Regions from separate parts of the Homo sapiens genome. Here regions 2 and 3 are each reported to be linked to region 1. Evidence: microRNA targets listed by miRTarBase, many of them from high-throughput screens and not tested one by one. Region 1 holds a microRNA gene; each other region holds the end of a gene's coding sequence.

Region 1 (4,244 bases):
CATCTGATCGGGAGGCTGAGGGAGGAGAATTGCTTGAGCCCAGGAGGTTGGGGTTGCATTGAGCCGAGATCACACCACTGCACTCTAGACTGGGTGACAAAGCCAGACCCCATTTCAATAAATAAATAAATAAATAAAAACAGTAGTAAATTGTCTATTTTGCTGAGTGACCAAGAGATAAGTCACAACCTCTGCAGGCCCTGATTTCAGCATTTTTAAAGTGGGGAGGGACTTGGTCTATATTCATTCTTTCAATATATATTGAGTCCCCTGAAATGGGCAAGATACTGATCTGGAAGGGGAAGGATACATATTTAAATAGGATTAAATTCCTACATGATAGGGGAGACTAATAGAAAGATGGTGGTTTCCATTTTTTCCTATTTCAGGATGGCAGATTTGTGGGTGCACAAGGCTGGTGAAGAGGACAACCATGAAAACTATGAAAGAAAAGGCAGAAGAGACCAATATTGGGTATATACCCATGCTATTTTATATTATGACACTTCACTTGCCTACTTATCGTAATAACCTAGCAAGGTAGATGTGATCAATTCTGTTTCACAGTTGAGGAATCTGAGACTCAGAGATGTTAAGTGACTGACTCAAAGTCACACAGCTCGTAAGCAGTGGAGCCAAGATTGAAACTGGCACATGTTTGACTTCAGAGCCAGGACTCCCCCCACCACTTAACAAAGGCTGTCATATCCATCCCTCAAATCAGGAATGCACCCCACATCCCCCCCCGAGATGCTTGTTTCACTGAGACACAATCTCTCCCCGTTCCATCTCCAAACCAGCCCCAGAGGCTGAGGGCTGCCCAGGAGAGACTCAACTCCCCTCCTCTCCTGTTCTCCAGCTCTGCCCTTCCTGCCCAATCTGGGCTTCTCTCCCGCTGTGAAGGACAGATACCTGCTGAGTGACACCAATTTGCAGACTTCTGAAGTGTAAATGAGATTTCTAATAGGACTGGCTTCCCACTGGCTTCAGGCAGGGTTAGGAGTAAAGGGAAATTTAAGACTGGAAGTGCAGAAGAAGAGAGCCAGTTTGTAGGATAGGGAGCAGCAGAAGCAGAGGCAGCCAAAGTCTCTGGGTAGAAGTGAAGGGCTGACTTGGTTCAGAGAGGTCAAGTGCCTTGCCAGAGGTCACACAGCTAGCAACCGGAAGAGGTAGAATGAGCTCAGCTAATGGTTGCATTTTTAGCATTCCCTAAATGAGTACGATCCCCAACCCCCAACTTTAGTTTGTAATATGCTTTAGTCTCCTCTGCTGTATGGATGGAGGAGGGTGGGAATATACTTAGGAATAGGGAGGGCATTTGGATTTGTTGCTTGAAAATTAATCTCCACTGAAAGTGTCATCACTGTAACTTGGTGCTCACCTTAGGGCAAGGTACCCCCCAGGCAGAGGGATCCCAGGCAGAAAGGCTGGGAGGCCAGGCAAGGTGGCTGATGCCTATACTCCCAGCACTTTGGGAGACCGAGGTGGGCAGATCCCCTGACGTCACGAGTTCGAGACCAGCCTGACCAACATAGCAAACCCCTCTCTCTACCAAAAATACAAAAAATTAGCTGAGTTGGTGGCATTCACCTGTAATCCCAGCTAGTCGGGAGGCTGAGGCACAAGAATCACTTGAACCCAGGAGGTGGAGGTTGCAGTGAGTCAGGACTGTACCACTGCACTCCAGCCTGGGACAGAGTGAGACTCTGTCTCAAAAATAAATAAATAAATAAATAAATAAATAAATAAATAAATAAATAAAAGGCTGGGAAATGCTTTTTCTGATCACTAATTCTAATTGTATTCCTGCCACAGTGGGGGATGGTCCCCAAGCACTGGGCTTTTTTCCCTTGGCCACACCTCTGGATGTAGCAGCACAGAGGCAGGTACTGGGACCAAGAAATTCCATACACACAAGTCCACTCCCTCAGCTGTGGAGCAGGCACCAGACAAGCTCCGAGGTCAGGTGTGTCCCCCCTGCTGCCAGGTACACTGAACATCCGGGAACCTCGGTCTCCAGTGCATACCTCTCGGTGCCCGCATACACTGTGGCTGTCGGGCCACAGACAATGAGGCCCTGAGCCCCAGGATGTGGAGTCACAAGGTGCCTCCATTATAGGTGCCCCAAAGTGATTGTTGGGGGAATTAGTAATTAAGGAGGGTTTTTCTCCCCCTGCCCTTCAGGTAGTGGTATGGAAGCAGTCCACTGCTCCCTGAAAACAGAGACCCTGCCCCACTTCCCTGCTCACACCATAGTTTGTCCATGTTTCTGGAAGAGTCTGCCGATGGGTGTTTAGGGTGGTGACCTGAGATGTTTTCTAGGAAACACAAAAGATACAAAAAAGAACACGTGGAAGGATAGCCAAAAAGGGGGGCTGCCCCCATTTCCTGCACCCCGCTGCGATGGCTGGCACCATTAGGTAGACTGGGATTTGTTGTTGAGCGCAGTAAGACAACAACAAAATCACTAGTCTTCCAGATGGGGCCAGCCGGTCCACTCTGTATCCAGGCCAGTTCTGCAAGGCGTTCGAGGACCACCCCCCTCCCCTCGCCACCAGGTCAGCGGTCTGGATGCTCCTTCAGGCGAGGCGTTGTCTCCGCTCCTATTACTAAGTTCATCTTTGAACACCTCTCCTCACCTCAGAATTCCCTGGAGAAATTATTTTTTCTTACTTTTCCCTTTTTTCTGGAGTGTTCTACTTTCTATAATGGACACAGTTGTTTTGTTTTGTTTTGGTGAGACAGGGTCTTGCTCTGTCACCCAGGCTGTAGTGCAGTGGTGCAATCACAGCTCACTCCAGCTTCAACCTTCCAGACTCGAGTGTTCAAGTGATTCTTCCACCTCAGCCTCCCTAGTAGCTGAGACTACAGCTAATTTTTTTTTTTTTTTTTTTTTTTTTAGTAAAGACAAGGTCTCAGTATATTGCCCAGGCTGGTCTTGAACTCCTGGGCTCAAGTGATCCTCCTGCCTCAGCCTCTCAAAGTGCTGGGATTATAGACGTGAGCCACTGCACCCAATTTGAGCATATTTCCTTTACAAACAGGGGAATTATTTTTAAAGAGAAGCAGGCAAGTGGCTCATTTCTCTCTTTCCTTTACTAATCATAAAGCATTGAACCACCATGCAGAAGAGAAACTAGAGCTTGGAAATGGTGACCCCTCTCTACTGGTGCCTCCCCCTTCTGGAAGCCTATGGGCATGGCCCATGGTGAAAATTCTTCCTGTGGTTACTGAGCCCTGGAAGCTTCAGAATGAAGTCAGAGTGGTGGTGCTGGGGTAAGCAGAGCAGGAAGAGGAAAAGGGGAAATGGTTGTGGACAGGAGGCTGGTGGAATCCTGGCCCAGTCATCCCCTCCCTGCAGGCACAGCGCTGGGCTCCCTGGTTAATTTCCCTTGCAGTGTGGCACTGGTGGAGGAGAGGCAAAGCCCCTGCTGCCTGGGCCAGCCTCTAATTGCGCTGGCAGGACACATCCGCTCCTTAATTAGCAAAAGCCACAATATCCTGGCGGCTCAGAGAGCATGGCCCTAATTGTATTTCTGCAGCAACTGAAGGATAATTACCCTTCCCTATTGGTGCTGCTTTTAATTCTTTCTCTTTTTAATTGTGAGCACTTCCTCTTTAGCCCACCCTTCCATCCTTGGGTTTATTCTCTCTATCCAGAATGGGGGTGGGGGCTTGCCTGGTGATGGAGACGCTCAGGAGCAGGAGGAGTGGGGGGAGTCATGGAGAAGACTGGCAATACCTAGCTCTGAGTCCCAGCCCCTTCCAGCTGTCAGCCTGAGACAGGGCACATCTCTGCCATGGGTCTGAGAAAAACCAAGAAGTTCTTTTGTGGAAGATGTAAGGGAGAGGTGTTCCTCCCCCAGAGGCTCTTTATGACCCTCTTCAGTCTACCCCGCAGTGAGGTGCTGGCTCTGAAATTCCCAGCTGTAGAAAACTGAGACCTCCTTTCCCCATCCTTTAATCTATCAAGAAACAGAGATGGATGTGTGGTCTTTAATTTCTTTTACAAAAAAAAAAAAAAAATAGCCCCGTGCCTCTTTGCCACTGTTGAGAGGAGGGTTAGTCCTTCAACCTTGAATTGTTTTAGAGACAAGGACCTGAGGGTACCATTAGAGAACAATGCTAACTAAGGTAACCCCTTGGTTAATAGGAGAGCTTAGCACCCTAGGTATTTCTAGGAAAAACAGGCCTTTCTTAGGGACCTGGCAAATAAACTTTGAGAAGTAATAGACAAGCTAAAA
Region 2 (4,244 bases), not on the chromosome of region 1:
CAGCAACACGATAAGAAAAATAAGAAAAATGTTTAATGAGCATGAATGACTAAATGAGGGAATATGGAAAAAAAGAAGTATCAACAGGAAGGCTTACAACAATTTCAACATGTTTTTTATTTGCTCACTTAACATTCCAAACAAAATGACATTTTACACTATTGCTTTTACTTAAGAAGTCAACTGCCTTATCCAAAGTAGACAAAAATCCCAATTCCTTTAAGTGTCCAAGTGGTACTTTTTCCCCCAGAGAAAGCTACTTGAATACTTTAACAGAAACATAGAATCGTCCTATAATAGTAAGGTAGTAGTTGGGTCTAACCTGTACTACATTTAAAACTTTTCTCATTAAAAAATGAATACAGAAAAAAACCCCAAACACCTCCAGTCATCATTCCTCTCAGATTTTTAACAATTCCACTAACCTTCATTAAAAATTGCTTTTGTAGAGAGGTGTATAAATATGAAAATGGAAAGTAAGCCTCCCCACACCTGTTCATAGAGAAGTGGGGTAGAGCATTTATCCTGAGAAAACTGCTGCTGGTCCCTGTTATTTCAAAAAGGATAATAAACATTATGGCCCACCAAGTCAAACCTCCTATCTTCTGTGCCATGATCATGTGTAACCTTTTCTGTTCTGGCTACGAGCATCTACTTTTCACACTCATGCGATTCTTCTCCTTTGAGCAAATCTTTGATGAAGTTGTATTTCACTGAATGTTCTCAAAGGGGAGAAAGAGTGCATGAGCAATTATAGTACTGGAACAAAAGTGAAGAGTACATATATTTTCACGTAGAAAAAATACATACAAATCCAAGTAGCTCCTAAAAATAGAAATCAGATGGGCATTTTTAAGAAAAAGATTGTTTTCTAAACTGTAAATGGTGCCAGTAAGACACTGATTTTTATATCTAGCTACATCACCATATTTATGTACAAAGAGAGGTTGGTATAGGTTCACTGATACCCCCAATTTCTCCCATTTCTTTAAAGATTGTCTTTCAGATCCTATTAAAACCATAACTGTTAATTTTTTAGACTACTTCCTGTCACTGGCACACTCTCTTCAACCTGGCACATACAAAAATTCATTTCAACATCTATTTACTTTTTTGATGCTAAAACTAACAATTTTTCGGCTACTTCAATGCCACAATATTCTATCACTACTTTGGCATTTTACTAATTATTATAGAAACAGGTAAGATTCTAAATATGGATTTTAAGACTATGTAAAATTCCAACTACATATGTCAAAAGGGAAAGTAGGAAGGTAGACACAATTATATTTTTGTTTTCATGTATATCATTGTCATGAGTCTGAAGCCTCATGTTGCATTCTAATTTACAACTGACATTGGTGACAGTTTGCTTGGCTTCTAGACTCAAACCCTAGAATTTATTAGTGGCTTTTAGATCAATTTGCTGTAAAACTATCTGAAATGGTTGCAGATTATTTTAAGCAAAAACAGAATGATACCTATAATGTACAAATGGAGGTGGATTTAAAGAACATATTATTGAGCAAGCTCTATAATGACATTTTCTTAACATCATCATAGTTTTTCTTCCTAGAAGGGAAAAAACTTACTTAAAATTTTCCCCTTCTTTACTTAAAGCATTCTTAAGTATATTGACAAATGTTTAAATCAGTTCAAGCTCTCAGCTGTTGGAAGATCAAAACACAAAGATAAGCATTTTCAACACAAACATCAAAAGATGAACAGAATTGCTTTCCATGTAATAGTTAATACCTTAATACAATGAACTTGTCAGGATTTTGCGACATATTGTATAGCTGGACAATAAAGCATGAAAATATTTTTTAAAAATTAAGTGAAGATATTCCCAAAGTTGAGATGTCCCCTACAAGAAACCAATTTTTAAATTCCTGTAATACTGAAAAGCTAAATTGCCACTATTGTAATAAAGTGAACCAAATTTTTAAAATAATTTTATCTTATTGAGAAACTAATTTTAACGCAAGCACTTTAAATGTATGTGCTATACAACACTGCATCTTATTTTCCAATTGGATATGTCTTACCACTCTTCTAACAAGTTTGAAAGAAAGAGGTCTGTCAACAGACACGAGCAAATACTTATAAAGTCTCAGGTCTTGCTCTATCACATACTAGCCAGTCCTTAAACACTTGATATATACCCACATTAAAAGGTGTGCTAAATATCGTCATGTTTTAGATGAAATTATGTCCTTAAAAGGTTGGTTTCTGTAGGATTTAAGGAGAACTTAAACTTTGCTGCTTTAAACTTTAGTTTTGCTATCAGTACAAATGTGTAAAACGCACCAAGAAGAAATCATTCCCATAAAAATCTCATCACTATATAATCGTTGACAGCACTTGCTGCCCTCCTGAGATTTTAGGAGAATAAAACTATATAAAATGCACAGTCATCAAGTCATCTTCAAGCTATTTTAGTATCCCACAAACCATTAACATAAAGTTCATACATGGTTATCTAAAAACACCATGGAGTCAAAGAGAAGCAAGAGTTAACAGTAAGTCAAATAAACCAATGATGTTTAACTGAGATTTTTTTAAAACTTAAGCTTTCTTAAGTTTCAAAGACAGTTTTACTTAAACAGAAACTGTCTTTTATAATCTTTTTGTCTTTTATATAATCAAGATTTTCTTGGCAAATACATCTCTTTTCGTAAACATACATAGGTAGAGAAGTTTCATATGTAGGTAGAGCGGTTTCATAAGCATACATAGGTAGAGAAGAAAACACTAAGGTTCTTTTCTACAACTGATAAAAAGCAAATACTGAAGATGAGAAAATGCCTTTAAGCTTTCAAATAACACTGTGGCATTTTAAAGTGTGTTATTTAAAAACAAAAAAGCTAGTCACCAATACTGTCATTCTCTCATCAGTTATGCTCAATAATCACAGAAACCCAAAAGGAGGCCCTAATTCTTTATTCTCTCTGCTGTATCTCTGCTCTATTTGCTACTAATGAAGCAACGTTATGACATGTAATTAAGATGCAAACAAAGAAAACCATAAAGAAACACTTGCTGTTAATTAACCTAGAAATAAAAATCAGACAAAATTAAAAACAGCCATTTCCAAACTAAAAACCAAAAAAATCTTAAAGAGCTTTGAAAAAGATACCAACTTGACCCTATAACACATAAAAACGAAAATTGATTTTACACATTTTAATCAATTTAATACAAATACCTGATTTATACTTTTACACCAACGGGCTAAGTCCCAAGTTCCAAACTGTAGTTCGCATGACTCTACAGAGGGGATCTTTGGAAGGATAAGGTACCTTTGGAGAACAGTGTATAAACAATTGTAAACATACACTGATTGTCCACTAGCTTTCTTAAATAGAATTTCTGAAATATTTTTGTAGGAAATTATATATAAGAGTGTAATTGATCAGATAATTCCTATTACAACATATAAATTCTGTTGAATGTGCAAAATGTGGTAGAAATAGAAGATACAGTGGATGATTTATACTTTTAAAGTAAGTGCTACATTACAATCCAGTAAAAGTCCTTTAATCTTTTCATGAAACTTCTCTCTATACAAATTGAAATACATAATGCTTTCTGGTTCTTCTTCAAACCAAAACTTGTCAAATTCATAGACAAGATAACCTGCAGTTAAAGAAAAACAAAACATTTAATCCTCAATGTTGAAATCACATTCAAACCGTCTCATCTTTACAAAGTATATAACCATCCTTTAAATTCCATATTAGAATACAATAATCAAAAGTAATCTCAAAACTATTAGAAGCCTGAGGGACTTAATAAGACTTAATAAACGATTTAGTGTATATTTACTATTTGTCTCAAAAATCAACAACGTCCCTCAAGTTTAAAAGATATAGTACTTTCACCTGGGAGCAGTGACTCATACCTGAACTCTCAGCACTTTCAGAGACTTAGGTGGGCAGATCGCTTGAGGCCAGGACTTAAGAGACCAGCCTGGGCAACATGGTGAAACCCCATCTCTGCAACAAACACAAAAATTAGCCAGGCATGGTGGCATGCGCCTATTGTCCCAGCTACTTGGGAGGCTGAGGTAAAGGTATCACTTGAGCCCAGGAGGTCAGGGCTTCAGTGAGCCGTGATTGTACCACTGCATTCCAGCTTGGTTGAGAACCTATCTCAAAAAAAAAAAAAAAAAAAAAAAAAAAAAAGATGTAGTACTTTCAAAAGATACCTTGAGAAAAGTTTCCCGAGAAACTTCCAAAGCA
Region 3 (4,244 bases), not on the chromosome of region 1:
TATATTCTGGGAGAAGTTCTATTCCTTAAATTAGATTCTCAAAGAAGTTATAGAGTGGACCCCAAAAAGGTCAAAAACACCTAAATGGTTCTCTAAAAAAATTCTCTGGTACTCTGTTTTTCTTTTTGTAATGGGCCTCCTTTATCAGTAAAATCGATATTAAAAAATGCTAATTAAATGAAGATTGTGTTAGTCATATTTGGCTTTTGTGTTACTGTTAAAGTGAGAATAGAAAATGCTTAATGACAAAAGGAACTTTAATTAGAGTTTAGTTAATAACTACGGTTTCTTTTTAAGCTTTTAATTCTAATCTGTCAACCTAAATGACTTTCCCAGGAATATTTAGTGACATTCATCTGCTGGCTATGATGTACAGTGGAGAAATGTGTTACTGGGGATCGAAGTATTGTGCTGATCAGCAACCAGAAAATCATGAAGTGGATACTAGTGTGTCTGGAGCGGGCTGCACTACATACAAGGAACCCTTGGATTTCCGAGAAGTAGGAGAAAAAATCTTGAAAAAGTATGTATCTGTGTGTGAAGGACCCCTGAAAGAACAAGAATGGAATACAACGAATGCAAAACAAATTTTAAACTTCTTTCATCATCGCTGTAACTAGTAAGTTCATCTAGTCCTTTTCAAATAGAAAAACAACAAAACCCATGAAATGGAAAAGAGAGTTCCAAAAAAGAAGACCTGTTGATACTGAATATGAGAACATTACACTGCATAAAGATATCCAGCTTGGGTACCCTACTAAAACAACATCACCATCTTTTTCATTATATATTAGTAAACCTATGAAGGGATGATTCTTTAATTTCTAAAGTGTTGTTCAAACTCACCTTAAAATACAGATGTTATGTCACTAATAATGAGTAGTAACCCAATTTAGCTTTACAAAGATTTTTTCTATTACTTTTTTTTTTTATTGTGGTATATGTAACACAAGTTTACCATTTTTATCATCTTTAGATTATTTTTAAATCTCACTACCTTGAAGTTTGCCATGCTTCAGAAATTAAAGTCAAGTTACTTCACTGCTTTGAATACATACTATGGATATAAATGTAGGCAAAATGAAAGATTATGACTAATATTCAGATTCCATTTTCAATAAGGTAAATAATGAAAGATCTCACAAAGGAATCATTGTGTTTAATTATTTTGCCATGTATTACTAATTGTATTTAAAATTTCTACTTCCCTTAGGCATTTTATAAAAATTTAAAAATTATTTTTCTATTTTGTTTAAAAGACAATGCATGGCTTTTCAAGTGAGTAATGAAGATAAAAACCAAGCTAGGTTAGTCTACCATTAGTTCATATGTTTTTGTAGCACATCTTTTCATAACATACTGAAATTTTAATGTTTTTTGCCTTTAATAATAGGGGTGAGTGTTAAAGGCCAGAGAGCCTAACTTGATATCTTGCTCATGGTCTTTCTGTCTACCTCAACTCCTGTTGTCATCTTTGGATGATCTTTCTGATACCTTGCTGATACCTTGGACTTCTGCCCAGTGACTTTATTACATTCCAGCAGCTTACTCCCGTGGCCGCACTTTGAATGTCACCACCTTGAGTTTCTCTTTCTGGTAAAATTTCAGTAACTGATAACTGCCCTCTTTTCAGTTTTTTCACTTCCTTATTTTATTGACTTTTCTCTCCTTTATGCTCATTCCACATTCTTCAGTTCCTTCTTACCCCCTTTTCTTGACTGCTCCCCTTCCTCCTAAACTGTCAGCCCCTTTCAGGCTTTCTTCCCTATCCACCCTCAGCTTTATGGGATACTATATGAACTAATCTCACCAGTTATTCTTCTTTCCCTGGTCTTTTAGTCTAGTCCTTTGGCAAGCCCTCAACCTCAGATTAATCCTATTTATTATCTACCTTTTCGGGGATGCTGAGTTCTTTGTGATGGGTAGTCCTTCAAAGTAGAATCACTACAAGTGTCTCACTTCAGCCTTAGAAAAGCCCTCAATGTAAACCTTATGTTTGTTACTAGGGTGGCCTCTCTCCCATTTCCCGCTGTGGCTGAGCCAAACTTCATTACTTTCCTTAGGCCCTCTGCCCCTCCCCTAGCATATGGCTCTTTCTCCTATTGAACAGAAAATTGAGACTATGAAGAGGTCAACTTGTATTTACCAACTTTACTCATTTTCCCATTTTAGAGGAAAAGAGGTTGCCTGCTTCCTATCAAAGGCGACTCTGTGCTACATGTTGGTTTCATCTTCGCTGTCTCTCTCATTTCCCCACAAAGTGTTGTCTCACTTTCTGCCTACCTTTTAGGTATTGATCTTCACTATATTTTTTTCTCTCTCTCTCTTTTTTTTTTTTACTTTACATATTTTATACAATGTCATTCATAACTATGGCTTCTTTTACCACCTGTAATAACAGACTGAGTCTCAAACCTGTAACTTGTATCCTGACTTATCTCTTGCTTTCTAAACCTTGTTTCTAACTGTCTATCAAATATCTTCATTAGACATCCCACAGTAATTTTAAGCTCAGTGTTTCCAAACGTCAAGTCCTCATCTGTTATATAAAATCCTTTCTGCTTTGTAAGTTTTCTCTTTTTGGGATTTTCCGCAGATCAGGGCAACACAGAATGACTACCTTCCCAGCCATGTCTCTGCAGTCATCCTGTGTAATCATGTTCTAGTCCAGTGTTGCTCAAACAGTTAAAATCCAGGCTGCTTTTGGTAAACATACAAATTCTGATATAGAGCCTCTGTGGCAAAGGGAATTTCTCAGTTCCTGCCCCAGCCCCCTTGTTTATCATTACACAGCTAAGATTTTTATTTAACTTAGCATTTTAGCAAGTTTTCTTATGAAAATACCTTTGTGCTTTCTAAGTATAAAGATTTAAATTATTTTTAATACGGTTTTTAGAACCACAGACTATCCCTCTTTTTAGAGCATCCTGATCAATTGCAAGTACTTCCACTTCTTCCCTAAATGCGCTTTGTGTGTTTTCCACCTCAGTAGCCTTGCACACATCATTACTTCTGCATCCTTCTTTGTGACCAAGTGAATACCTACCTACCTCTTAGGACTCAGCTTCAGTGATTCTGTTTTCATAGGCTTTTTAAAGCCCTTTTCAGTCAAATTAGATGCTCCTTTGTTCTGGTCCTTTACTCTTCCCCTCCCATGTTGTCGCACTGATCACACTGCTTTGTAATTATTTTCTTTATTGTTGGTAAACTCCATATTTTAAAAATTTACCTGTATACATAGTGCTTAATGCATGGTAGGCCCTTAGTAATGTTTTTGAATTAATGAGGCATGATTCTAAATGCCAAACTTTGCACAAAAAGTTGTTGCTATTGGATTCCAAACTGCTATGCCCTCTATACCAGTGGCTGACAAGGCATATAGGGATATATGCCATCCTGAGAGGAGTAAAGTGTTTAGATTCTGAACCTGAGAAAAGAGAACTTTCTCTTAAGAAGTTGGAAACTTCATTTTACCTTCGTGACCCTGGTAGACCACTTGGTCTCACTGGTTGGTACAATTATGAGGGTAGTACTGGGTGCTTTTTATACAACTTTCCATCCCCCACACAGTTGGAGAATAATTTGTAGACCATGGCAGTTAAAATGCTTTTTACTCTGGTGTATTATAGAATAATGAACACATTTTTATATATGTTAAAGCCTGCTAAATCATTCACTTAGAATGAAGTAACCTCAAGGTACCAAATACCCCACATAAGGAAAGTACTACACTAAATTCACTCAACTATTGTATGCCTACCATATGCCAGATTTTATCCTAGACCCTGAGGATATAGCTTTTTAAAACCCCCTCCTGTTTCAGAGCTTATATTCTAGTGGAGGAAGTTAGACAAGCATTTTAAGTAATAAATGTATAGAGAGTGTCAAGTGATGAGTACCATGAAGAAGAATAAATGAGGGTAAGGGGCTAGTGTGATAGGGAGAGGGGTGGGATGCCATCATATTTAGGGGTGGTTGGGAACTGTCTACTGCTTTAGCATTTGTGTCTTCAAATTTCTCTCCTTTGGTTATATACCTTGCGTATTCCGCACATTGATAAAGTTTCTTTCTTACAGAAGTTCTGATATTGAATTAAGGAATGGGTCACTACTTAAGACTTTATCATTTCAGCTACACATAAAAGGTTTCTCTCCCCTATGGATTTTGCTAATGGTTGAGTGATACCTAAAGGCCTTGTTGCATTTTTTACACTTGGGGTTTCTCTTCGGTTTGAATTCTCTCAT

The links. The annotated mature microRNA hsa-miR-3529-5p reads AGGUAGACUGGGAUUUGUUGUU and lies in region 1 at 2,419-2,440, shown strand. An mRNA with a match to its seed (bases 2 to 7 or 8) in the 3' UTR can be bound and repressed. Matches are read on the target gene's strand: a 7mer-m8 pairs with bases 2 to 8, a 7mer-A1 pairs with bases 2 to 7 and ends in A, and an 8mer does both.
Region 2: the mRNA of ELMOD2 is a reported target of hsa-miR-3529-5p. Seed matches in the 3' UTR shown: 7mer-A1 at 3,465-3,471 and 7mer-m8 at 1,274-1,280.
Region 3: miRTarBase lists RIMOC1 as a target of hsa-miR-3529-5p. Seed matches in the 3' UTR shown: 8mer at 1,312-1,319 and 7mer-m8 at 1,449-1,455.

What each region holds. Positions count from the first base shown.
Region 1 is chr15:88,610,090-88,614,333 of GRCh38, reverse strand. MIR3529 (microRNA 3529) reads left to right here and starts at 2,410; the gene lies at 2,410-2,487. It overlaps MIR7-2 (microRNA 7-2), which reads right to left and starts at 2,509; the gene lies at 2,400-2,509. It also overlaps a transcript of AEN not described here. RefSeq lists an enhancer at 616-1,300.
Region 2 is chr4:140,549,625-140,553,868 of GRCh38, reverse strand. It overlaps ELMOD2 (ELMO domain containing 2), which reads right to left. Exons shown (of 9, transcript NM_153702.4): 9 at 99-3,639. The coding sequence ends at 3,494. Among named protein-coding and RNA genes, the nearest start is that of UCP1, 17 kb to the left of the region's middle.
Region 3 is chr5:41,916,680-41,920,923 of GRCh38, forward strand. RIMOC1 (RAB7A interacting MON1-CCZ1 complex subunit 1) reads left to right here. Exons shown (of 6, transcript NM_175921.6): 6 at 337-4,244. The coding sequence ends at 620. It also overlaps the pseudogene LOC100419715. Among named protein-coding and RNA genes, the nearest start is that of FBXO4, 6.5 kb to the right of the region's middle. RefSeq lists an enhancer at 1,668-1,827.